2 separate regions of the Homo sapiens genome follow, and region 1 is linked to region 2. The links come from fine-mapping of genetic effects on gene expression. Tissue or cell type: esophagus mucosa. Region 2 holds a variant in brackets; the other region holds the start of a gene. All regions are shown on one strand. Distances are between the middles of the regions.

Region 1 (5,372 bases), 36 kb after region 2:
CACAGTATTCCCTTTCAGTTTTGCTGAATTGGCCAAAATGAGTATTGGGCTAGAATTCAAAATCCTGAAGAATCAAGTATGTCCCCCTACCTTAGTGAGTCTTAATTAACTCCATCCTTAGGGAGAATTCCAAACCAAAGTAAATTATCAGGAGGGCATTTAAACAATTTAAGTAACACACATTTCAGGTAACACACAAAACATTTCAGTTGACTACCGAAATTGTATTATGGCAAAAAGTTGCCCAAGACTTAGTTTCCCATTATTTCATACTTGCCCCAAACTCCCTTTCAGTTAACCATAACACCATCTAGGCCAGACCACAGCAGGTTATCAGCATCAGCAGAGATCAGAAAACAAAAATAAAGCCACGCGTCAGGGTAATTATTTATTTTTATTGTCTCTTTATTCCTGTAATGTAAAAAGGAAAACAATGTCATGTAACTCTCTTCGCTACAGATACGGACAGTTTCTGTAGCCTCTAAAACAGGCAGGAAATGGCCTTCATAACCATTCTCCAATTTTGCTGGAGGATCAGGGTGGTGGAAGTCATTTTAAAAACCAGCTGCAATATACTGTACTACCAGAGAGTGGGGTGAAGCAATTGAGTCCTTTTACCTAGCTGACTCCGAATCAAGACAGCTAAAAGAATGTACCAGAAAGAAAGAAAAAATAAAATGCTACCAAAATCCCAATCCATTATCTACCCTTTATGGAGAAAAGTACCTTTATAATGTTTTACAAAGAATCGTGGTCTCAAGTTTCCACTTTGTTTTAGTAATAAAGAACTTTCAAAAAAAAAACCACTCTAAACAACACCCTCCTGTATAGAAAGCTCTATTTTAATAATTAATGCAATGATACCCTTGTTGGAACAATCCAGCCGCTTTGAAACTCTGGTATTTACTTACTAGATGAACAAGTTTCTCTATGGAGGTGCCTTTAACTTCTCAAGAAATGTGTAAGTTAAGACGGCTCCAAATTACATTTTAAGAGAGCCTTGTATTTTTAGAGGTTCTTTTTCATCGGTCAGAAAAACTTACGTTGACGATTCTGCAAGAAAGGTTGCTCGCAAACCATGCATCGCAAAGCTACCGAGGCAAATTTAAAGAACCAATGAAAAAGAGTGGAGGCTCGTCTGAATCTTTAATTGGCTATGGGAATTTCAATTTATTGCATAAATAATCTTTTAGACCTCAAGATACACGTGACCTAGGGACAGTTTACATCAATGGGCAAGACTTAAAAATAGACACCAAGTTCAGCAAGTATTTGAGCACCTACTAAAAATTACACAACTCCCACAACAACGCATTTTGCGTTTCTAAAGTTGTAAGCAGCATGTTCGGACGCTTGATGCAATTTCCCAAGTTGTTTGGGCCCCCCCCCCAAAAAAGTCTTCTCAGTAAAAGGTGGGGGGAAGGAGGGTATTTTGGGGGCAACAAACCAAACTGGTCTGTCGCATGTTAAGTCAATTTCACGTTCACCTACTGGTCACCACGAAGCCGAGGAAAGTTTTAAAAAGAACATTCCGGGGTCTCCAGAGATCATCTCTCCAAGTCCGCTCGGCACCGGCGCCTGAGCTGGGGCTAAGGTCCCGCGTCTCTGGTTCTGTCCTAATAGAATCCGGGACATCCACAGGGATTCCCCGGGGCAGCCTTCAGTGAAGACCAGGGAGAGGGGCCGCCCGGGTCTCACGGGTGCTTCCCGCGCTGGGGATGGCGGCGAGCAGCCACGGCCTATGGACGCGCAAGGGAAAGAATGCAGCGACCCCGGAGCTCGCAGGGCCGCCCGCCCAGGAGTCTGAGGCTGGGAGGACCTCACCTTGCTGCGGTCCTCCTCCTGCTGCTGCAGCAACTCGGGAACCGCGGCCATGGCGACGCGGGACTCGAGCAGGGGCCGCCTGGCTGTGCGAGGAAAGAAGAAGCTGGGCCGCCGCCGCCGCCGCCTGGGCGCCTCTCGGGGGCGGCCACGGCCCCGCCTCCGCCGGCCTCCCTGCCCGACGGCGGCAGGAGGCCTCCGGACTCCGCCACCATCCCAGCTGCCCCGGGAGCAGGCGAGCAGGGCGCCACGTGCTCCCCCAGAGCAGCCTCCCAGTCCCCGCTGCCGTCCATCTTGGAGCCGGGCAAAGACGCCACGTGGGGCCTACCCTTGCTCCGCTCCACGAGGAGGCCGCCAACCGCAGGGCCGCGACACGGACGGGAAGCAACGGACACTCTCCCAGCAAGACGCGTCTAGAGAAAGACCGCGTTTCGGTGCGGGGGGAATTTATTACTCAGCCCGAGTCCAAGATGGCAGCGAGCGCTGACGTCACCAGATCTCGTGAGAGCAGAAGGGCGCGATTTGGAGGCTCCCGCGCTTCGGAGACGCCGGCCCTTCCGCTCGGAGAGGTACTCCCTGCCTCTAACTGGTGGCGCGTTGGCGGAGGCCGACGAAAGCCTCGGGTGGGGCGTGAGCGCCGCGGGGCATTCTGGACCTGCTTTGCCTTAGGCTGTGCCTAATTCGAAACCAAAGCGCGGGACGGATGAAAGTACGGGTCGCGAGAGGTTGTTCGCGCCTTGAGAGTTAAGCGAAGTGTGGTGGCTTCCAAGGTACCGACACTTGCCGTAGGCTGGGCTTTTATTTAAGTCGTCTTTTCTCTAATCCAGACTCCTGCCACAGGGGCCACCGCCGTCCTGGCCCCGCCAGGGGTCCGCACCCACGGCGGAGCGGGAGGCGACTTTTTGCGGTCACAGTAATGGGACCTCAGCGCCGCCACCAGCTCTGACCGGCGAGCGACGGGACCCTCCAACCCGATTTCCACGTCTGTGCAACGGGTTCATTCTAGACCCACGGTAGAGGGTGTGAGGACCAAATGAGAAGTATCCACACAGAATACTTAGCAGAGAGCCTGGTGTCTAGGAATTAGTCGTCGTCTGTCACCTAGGACTGTGTGGCCGCCATGGGACGGGCTCCATCTTTGTGTTTTTCCGTGTCTCGCACACGCCTCCCTTCCTGGGCGTCACATTCCTGCAGATTAGAAACTGGGACGTCTTGCCTCAAGCTGTCTACTAATTCGCATTTAGTATGTGTCGGTCCTTCGGGTATTGAGTCTTGATTTATTTATAAATTTTTTTTGGAGGCAGGGTCTCGCTCTGTCGACTTTCTTAAGAAAGGGCTCTGTCCAAACATGTCGAAAAAGTTCACAATTTTGATGTGCAATATCATTCTGATGCAGCTTTCGCTTTGATGGTTGTTTTCTCTCCAATAGGAATACAAACATAAAGGCCTTCGACCGTTGCAAATAGACTAAAGTGAAAACAAATCTGAATGAAGATGAAGTTATTTCAGACCATTTGCAGGCAGCTCAGGAGTTCAAAGTTTTCTGTGGAATCAGCTGCCCTTGTGGCTTTCTCTACTTCCTCTTACTCATGTGGCCGGAAGAAAAAAGTGAACCCATATGAAGAAGTGGACCAAGAAAAATACTCTAATTTAGTTCAGTCTGTCTTGTCATCCAGAGGCGTCGCCCAGACCCCGGGATCGGTGGAGGAAGATGCTTTGCTCTGTGGACCCGTGAGCAAGCATAAGCTGCCAAACCAAGGTGAGGACAGACGAGTGCCACAAAACTGGTTTCCTATCTTCAATCCAGAGAGAAGTGATAAACCAAATGCAAGTGATCCTTCAGTTCCTTTGAAAATCCCCTTGCAAAGGAATGTGATACCAAGTGTGACCCGAGTCCTTCAGCAGACCATGACAAAACAACAGGTTTTCTTGTTGGAGAGGTGGAAACAGCGGATGATTCTGGAACTGGGAGAAGATGGCTTTAAAGAATACACTTCAAGTAATTATCTCAATTCTGATTCTATATGTTTGCTATGTTTTCTATAATAGAGAGCAACGGTGTCAAAAGAATGAGGTTTGGTTTTGTTTTTTTAACTTACTAGCAAGGAACTCCCTTCAGATAGTAATTAACATTAAATAGCACTTTATGTGTATTAACTCACTTGATCCTCATGGTAGTCCTGTGGAGTATAGATACTGTTATCCACATTTTACAGATGAAACTAAAATAGATCAAATATTTGACTAAATAATACATAAAATTCACTTGTTTTATAAGCTACCAACAATATTAGAATTGCTTGTTTTCCTTGATTATTGAAAAAAGTCACCTGGTAACAGAATTCTAGTTGTTTGCTAGATAATTCTGTTTAGAATCCAGTAAATACCCACTGTCCTACTTATTAGCGTAAACTGACTCGTAAATTTAAAGACCTTGAAGCAGACCAGAACACATGACCTATATTTAGACCTTGGTAAACATAATCAGAGGTTCTTCATAAGGATCTGAGGATAAATACACTTTAACCTTCAACTTCTAATTTACTAACTTGGACAAGTGAGGAGAATAGCTTCCTTAAATTTAATATTCCATTCAAAAACAAAGACCATTGGCACTGGTGAATTAGCTAGTCCCATAAATTATATAGGGGTCTTTTGTTAAAGGAAAGTTTCACATCAATCATTCCTTTACCCAAGCTTCCCAAAGTGCAGTACATGTACTCTTAGTAGTACACAAACTCTTTCATTTTTGTTTTAAGAATAGTGTACTGACCCTTGCCATAGCCTGGGCTTCTATTTAAGTCGTCTTTTCCCTAATCCAGACTCCTAAAACTATGCGTGTAACACATTAAACATGTCACATGTTCTAAAGAAAAATACTAAGTATATATAGGTGGTATTGGATATGTACCAAATGGTCAAGGCCTTTGCTCCTTATAATATTCCTCAGCTGTGTGGGGCAAGGATTATATATGCAAGAGCTAACTGCCTTCCTAAGATAGTTAATTAGTAGCAACCACCAAACTATTGTCTGCTTTCCAAGCAAGCAACATAAAAATCTTCTAATGGCATCTTACAGTTTTGTATTTGTACCACTAAAATTTAGAATTGATAGTTTTCTCATGAGAAGTTATTTTCCTTAAACCAGGAATGTACAGCTGAAATTACTAATAAGAAATGTATTATTAAAAGGCAGAAACCTGCTGGAACACATGGGACCCCAGGGCCTGTAGCTCTTGGCACAAAGTAAGGAAGTGCACCAGAGAGGAATTTCTGTTTGGAATGTGAATGAGCCCCAATAGCCCAGGCAGAGAGAAGACTGGTTGTTTTTTTTTTCATAGAGTCAGCTTTGTTGATCTAGATTAGCACTCAGCTGTGTTTCTCAGTTAACTCAGTAGCAACCTTAAGAAATGAGCAGAATCGCTTACCCCAGCACCCCGCCCAGACTTGACCGCCGGGACCCAAGTGATTCTCCCATCTCAGCCTGCTGAGTAGCTGGGACCACAGGCGTGCACCACCATGCCTGGCTAATTTTTTTATTTTTTGTAGCG
Region 2 (5,374 bases):
GCTGGCTGCTGTCACGTTCCCCACCAACCACCCCAAACCCCACTCCCCTGCCCTCGGGGTATCCCTGGTCCCCCCCACCTTCTCATATGTGCAGTCTTCATGTCGTGGATTCCAGACCCCGGCCCTGCTGGCTGCCTGCCCAGCCAAGAACACCTGCCGTGGACACCTCCCCACGCCTGGGCCACCACCTGCCCAGTCCTCATCACCCGCCATCCAAAAAGTCACTCTGGTGTTGAAGACTCATCTAAACCTGGACCCCAAAATGCTACTGGCATTTAGTCACTATTCCACAGGCCCGTTCTGATTATTTGTTATTTTATTTTATTTGAGGCAGGGTCTTGCTCTGTCACCCAGGCTGGAGTGCAATGGTGCAATCACTAGCTCACTGCAGCCTTGATTTTCTGGGCTCAGATGATCCTCCCACCTCAGCCTCCCAAGTAGCTGGGACCACAGGCACACACCACCATGCCCAGCTAATTTTTTTATTTTTTGGTAGAGACAGGGTCTCCCTATGTTGCCCAGGCTGCGTGATTTTAAAAACATAAATATCTCCAAATTATCTGACCCTCCTAGAGATGAAATCTCCCTGTGGCCGCTGTTCTTTTTTTTTTTTTTTTTTTTGAGATGGAGTCTCTCCATGCTGCCCAGGCTGAGCTTGAACTCCTGGCCTCAAGCTATCCTCCTGCCTCAGCCTCCCAAAATGCTGTGACTACAGGTGTGAGACATGGCACCAAGCCTGTGGCCACTTTTTCTTTATTTTCACATGAGATAAAGACACCACCTGAGAAAGTATTTGAGTGTGTGTGTGTGTGTGTGTGTGTGTGTGTAGCTGGGGTATGGAGTCACATGTGCGTGTGGGAAACAAGCCTGAAGGGTTGCTTTGGCACATCACCTCTGGGTCTTGCCATTGCAGTGATTTATTTGCTTTTCTGTATTTTCTACCTTAACATGTAATTTTGGGGAAATTAAAAAATCAATTTAAGAAACTTAATGGATAAACAAAAGACAGTCAATACTGGAAAAGGCACAAATCATGAAGGTAAACCCATAGGCATGGATGTGAATCTCAGCAGTGTGTGGTCTTGGGCAAGTGGCTTGTGCCTTTGCCTCTCTGAGGCCTGGTTTCTCACCCCCCCAAAATGGGGGATTATATAGTAAATGGCAAAAGTGGCTGTAATCTTTGCCACTTCTCCCATCAAAAGATAGAGTTTGTTTTCCCTCCCCCTGAATCTAGGCTGCCCTTGTAAGTTGTTTTGGTTAGTGAAATGCAGGAGAAGGGATGGTGTGCTTGTTCCAAGTGGACCTCAAGGGCCTTGCAGCTTCTACTCACTCTCTTGGAACCCCGCCCAGCTGCCATGAGAACAGCCTGGGCTAGCCCACTGGAGGATGAGAGCCCACACAGAACTAAGACAAGCTATCTCAGTTGACCCCATTCTGAGCCAGCCAGCTGGCCCCAGCAGACCTGGAAGTTGACCTCTGACAACTGAGTGAGCCCAGCTACCAGAAGAACTGCCCAGCTGAGCACAGCCATTAGAAATAAATAGTTTGGGCTGGGTGCAGTGGCTCACACCTGTAATCCCAGCACTCTGGGAGGCCAAGGTGGGTGGATCATGAGGTCAGGAGATCAAGACCATCCTGTGAATGGTGAAACCCCATCTCTACTAAAATTAAAAATACAAAAAAAAAAATTAGCCGGGTGTGGTAGTGGGCACCTGTAGTCCCAGCTACTCAGGAGGCTGAGGCGGGAATGGTGTGAACCCGGGAGGCAGAGCTTGCAGCTAGCCGAGATCATGCCACTGCACTCCAGCCTGGGCGACAGAGCAAGACTCCTTCTCAAAAATAAATAAATAAATAAAATAAACAGTTTGGGGGTAGTTTGTTATGTAGCTAACAACAGCTGACAAACACACTAAACATGCCCCTAACTTATGACCTTTGCCCTTGCTCTTTGCTCTGCCTGAAACCCCACTCCCTGCAAACTCCATGGGCCTTTTCTCTCTCACTGCCTTCAGGTCTCTGCTCAGTGAGGTCTCCCCTGGCCAGTCCATATAAAAAGCCCCTCTCCCATCACTCTCCTTCGTATATATCTTGCCATAGCACTTACCACCTCGCTTCTTTATGTATTTACTTGCTTATTTGTTTATTGTCTCTCTTCCCCCAACACACACACCATGGAATATGAGTGTCATGGGGGCAAGGAGATTCTCTATTTTGTCTACCACTATTAGCGCCCAGCACCTGGTAGGGGTTCAGATATTTGTGGAATAAACAAGTTCATCTTTTGCCTTAGGGGCTCCCATCCAGCTGGCCACAGCGCTCTCACTAAGAAGACGTATTCTGGGCACCTCCCAGCTGCCCGCCTGGCTCTGGGCCCTCAATCCCTGAATGACAGTGGTCACTGCACTTGAATAACCC[T/C]CTAGAGTGTAAAGGGACTTCCTCCTTTCCTGCAACCCACTAATGGGGTCTGCAGACCCCACTCTCCAGCCCTGTTTCTCAGGTGAGATAACTGAGGCGGAGAGACTAGTGCAGGTGTAGGGACACAGGTATCTTGTGGCACATCTTGCCTGGTGCTCCCTCAGGCCATTGGACAGAGGCACCTCCTCCCACCACCAAGAGCTGGGCCAGGCATCAGGGATCCCTGGTCTGAGCCTTTTCTTCTCCTAACTTGCATTGAGACCTGAACAGTCCCTAACAGGGAGACAAAAAAAACTTCTCAACAGTGAGAAGCCTCTGACAATCCCAGCACCTCATTAAATAGACTTTCATCATTTCATGCAAAGCTACCAAAGGAAAGAAAACATCAGGGGCTGTTAGACCTTGGCCAGGGGTCCCCTCAACTCTCAGAGCGTCAGGAAGGCTGAGGAAGAGGGGTGAGGGGGAGGGTCCCCCGCAGCCTCTGGCTGGCCTCACCCAGCCATCTCCCATGGCACCTCCTGCCCTGGTCAGAAGCCCTCCTGCCCTCCTGGGCACTCAGGGGAAATCCTCTGCAACTTGGGATGAAAACCACAGAGCAAGAGTCCCTGGAATTCACGTGTGACTGCTTGGTAATGTTGCCTTAGCCCAGCTTTCCCCAAGAGCTGACCCAAAAGGAAGATTCAAGCAGAAGCATTTTGTGGGGGGATGGCCCCAGGAAGCCCCAGTAGGAGTGTGTGCTAACTCTGGGCATTCCCAGCTTGGTGGAGTGTGCCCCTGCCATCAGGGGTGCCCTTGAGAAGAGAGGCAGGCAGGTCCTGATGTAGGATGCCACTGGGTGTGCAGGAAGGAACTGCAGGTGACTTTGGGGGTCCAGGGCCCTGAGGAAAACTGAGAACAGCACTGCTGATCCCAGGGGAGGGGATGGAGAGCAAAGGGTGACTCTAGGGAGGCATTTCAGCAGAGGAGACCCATGAGAAGGGGAGGACCCTCCATCTTCAGGCTGGGTATTGAATTTTCCAAGCCCACCTGGCTAACGACTTTGCCCCCAGAGGCACTTGAGCAAAGGGCCAGCCCCAGCCAGAGCCAGGAGAGCAGGCTCTGCACTGCCGCAGGAGAGCTGCTAGCCCAGCCTGGCTACACCATGGAAGCCCAAAGACAGGAGCTCTTTTACAGAAATGAAACCCCTAGAATTAGTCCCCAGACCAATGGCTCTGCATGCAAAGGCACAGACAGCATAGACTGAAAGTCTACTGTGTGCATAGCTGCAGCCAGGAGATGGGCAGGGGCCCATAAGAGAACACCAAGGTCATGTTCATTAAGCATTCACTGAGGCTGTGCATGGCCTACCTCAGCGCTCACAGCCCCTCCTCCTAGTGGCAACTACGACTCTCCCCTGAGATAGGACCGGTATTCCAAACACCTCTCCGGGGCAGGCAGGGGTGGCAGCCCCTTCACTAACTGGACTCTCCTTTTGTGCTCAGAGTAACCCCCCTCCCATTTTACCAACGTGGAAAGGGATGAGCTTCAGGAGCTTGGCCATGGTCACCGGTGCCAGGGAGTGAGACAGAGGCAGAACCCTGGGAGGCCTGGGTGATTCAAACACATCACAGAGTCTTTACCCTAAGGGAGCTGCAATCCAGCCGGGGAAATAAGACCCCGAGGAAAATGAGCAAGAGCAGTTAAACCGCAACATAAGGCAATAATACAAGGAGGCTACCACCCAGAGCCGGACATTCCACACCCAGCAGTCGGCCTCGCCGCCTCCCGCCCGCTTCTTCTTGTAAGGGCCTTTCTCAAGAAGTGGCTAAAAAGGGACTTAGGATAGCACTTGGCGGACAAAAGGGGTTGTTGGCCCCTGCTCTAAAACATTTGCCAACACATCTTCCCATCCCCTAGGGCTTTAAGAATGATCCCCACCCTTAGCTAGTCAGTGGCTGCAAAGCAGCCCCTTTCATTAAGCCAGGGAGGGGGGTCCAGTGGAAACTGAGCCCCCGATCTTTGGGAAACTGCTGAGGAGGCTATAAAATTAGAGAGAAGGACGAGCAAATTACAGAGAGGGAGTGGGCAGGCAGCAGGGCCTTTCATCAGCCTGATTAGCTAAGGAAAGAGGCCCAGCCATGGGGGAGGAAGGCCAGGGGAGGTCGCCGGCTACCTCCTGGGGGATTGAGGGCCCCTCCAAAGTTCAGGGGCCTCAGCCCAGGCTTCTGCCTTCAGGTCAAACCTGTCCTTGCACAGTAGGGGGAGGACCCAACATTTTACCGGGATGCACCATTTCTCACCCTCTGACTCTGGGGCCTGGCTGAATCTCCTGGAGTCTCATTCTCCTCATCTGTAAAACAGCCCCGGCTCACAGGATGTAACTGTGACTGAACTAAACAAGTGGTTGGTTCTCAACCCTAGCTGTACATCAGGACCACCAGGTGAAGACATGTTAAACCTCCAATACTTAGGCTGTACCCTGTACTATTGATATCAGAATCTTTGGTGGGGGGTGGGGAGGGTTGGGTGGGAACATCCCAAGCACAGGGACAACTGGAACAGAGGGCCTGCGCAGGAGAGCCTGGGGTGTCCTGGAACAGGTGTGGCTGGATGGGGATGAAGGAGAGGGATGGCACAGGAGGGAAGTTCACAGAGGTCAGGGGAGCTCAGCTACACTTGCAGATCACAAACCACCCCACATTTCATGCAGGAAACAACCACAATAAAACCACCACCATTTTATTGTGCTTGGGCTTCTGGGAGGCTAGAGTCTGGACAGGCCTTAGTGGGAATGACTCGTCTCTGTTACATAACATCTGGGGCTTCAGCTAGGAAGATGTGAGTGTCTTGCGGGGGCAACTGTCTAATACAGTAGCCCCTAGGCTCATGTGACTATTTAAACAGAAATTAATTAAAATTAAGCAAAATAAAAACTTAGCTTCCTCAATTGCACCAGCCACATTCCAGGTGCTTAATAGAG

Alleles and levels. Positions count from the first base shown, and alleles are read on the strand shown. Sizes are in standard deviations (SD) of each study's normalised expression.
For the expression in esophagus mucosa of the gene that starts at base 2,244 in region 1, T is the high allele of the variant in region 2 and C is the other (small effect, 0.12 SD a copy in GTEx).

The links.
Region 1: SNX5 starts here. The variant in region 2 is fine-mapped to the expression of SNX5 in esophagus mucosa (GTEx, PIP above 0.99).

The regions. Positions count from the first base shown.
Region 1 is chr20:17,966,551-17,971,922 of GRCh38, forward strand. SNX5 (sorting nexin 5) reads right to left here and starts at 2,244. Exons shown (of 13, transcript NM_014426.4): 1 at 1,825-2,244. The coding sequence starts at 1,875. It overlaps MGME1 (mitochondrial genome maintenance exonuclease 1), which reads left to right and starts at 2,468. Exons shown (of 5, transcript NM_052865.4): 1 at 2,468-2,591; 2 at 3,251-3,820. The coding sequence starts at 3,310. RefSeq lists enhancers at 957-1,711, 1,573-1,622, 1,673-1,842, 1,712-2,466, 2,083-2,392 and 3 more and a silencer at 1,873-2,082.
Region 2 is chr20:17,930,227-17,935,600 of GRCh38, forward strand. No RefSeq gene overlaps it. Among named protein-coding and RNA genes, the nearest start is that of SNORD17, 30 kb to the right of the region's middle. RefSeq lists a silencer at 1,296-1,496. The variant T/C (reference allele first, on the strand shown) is at 2,416.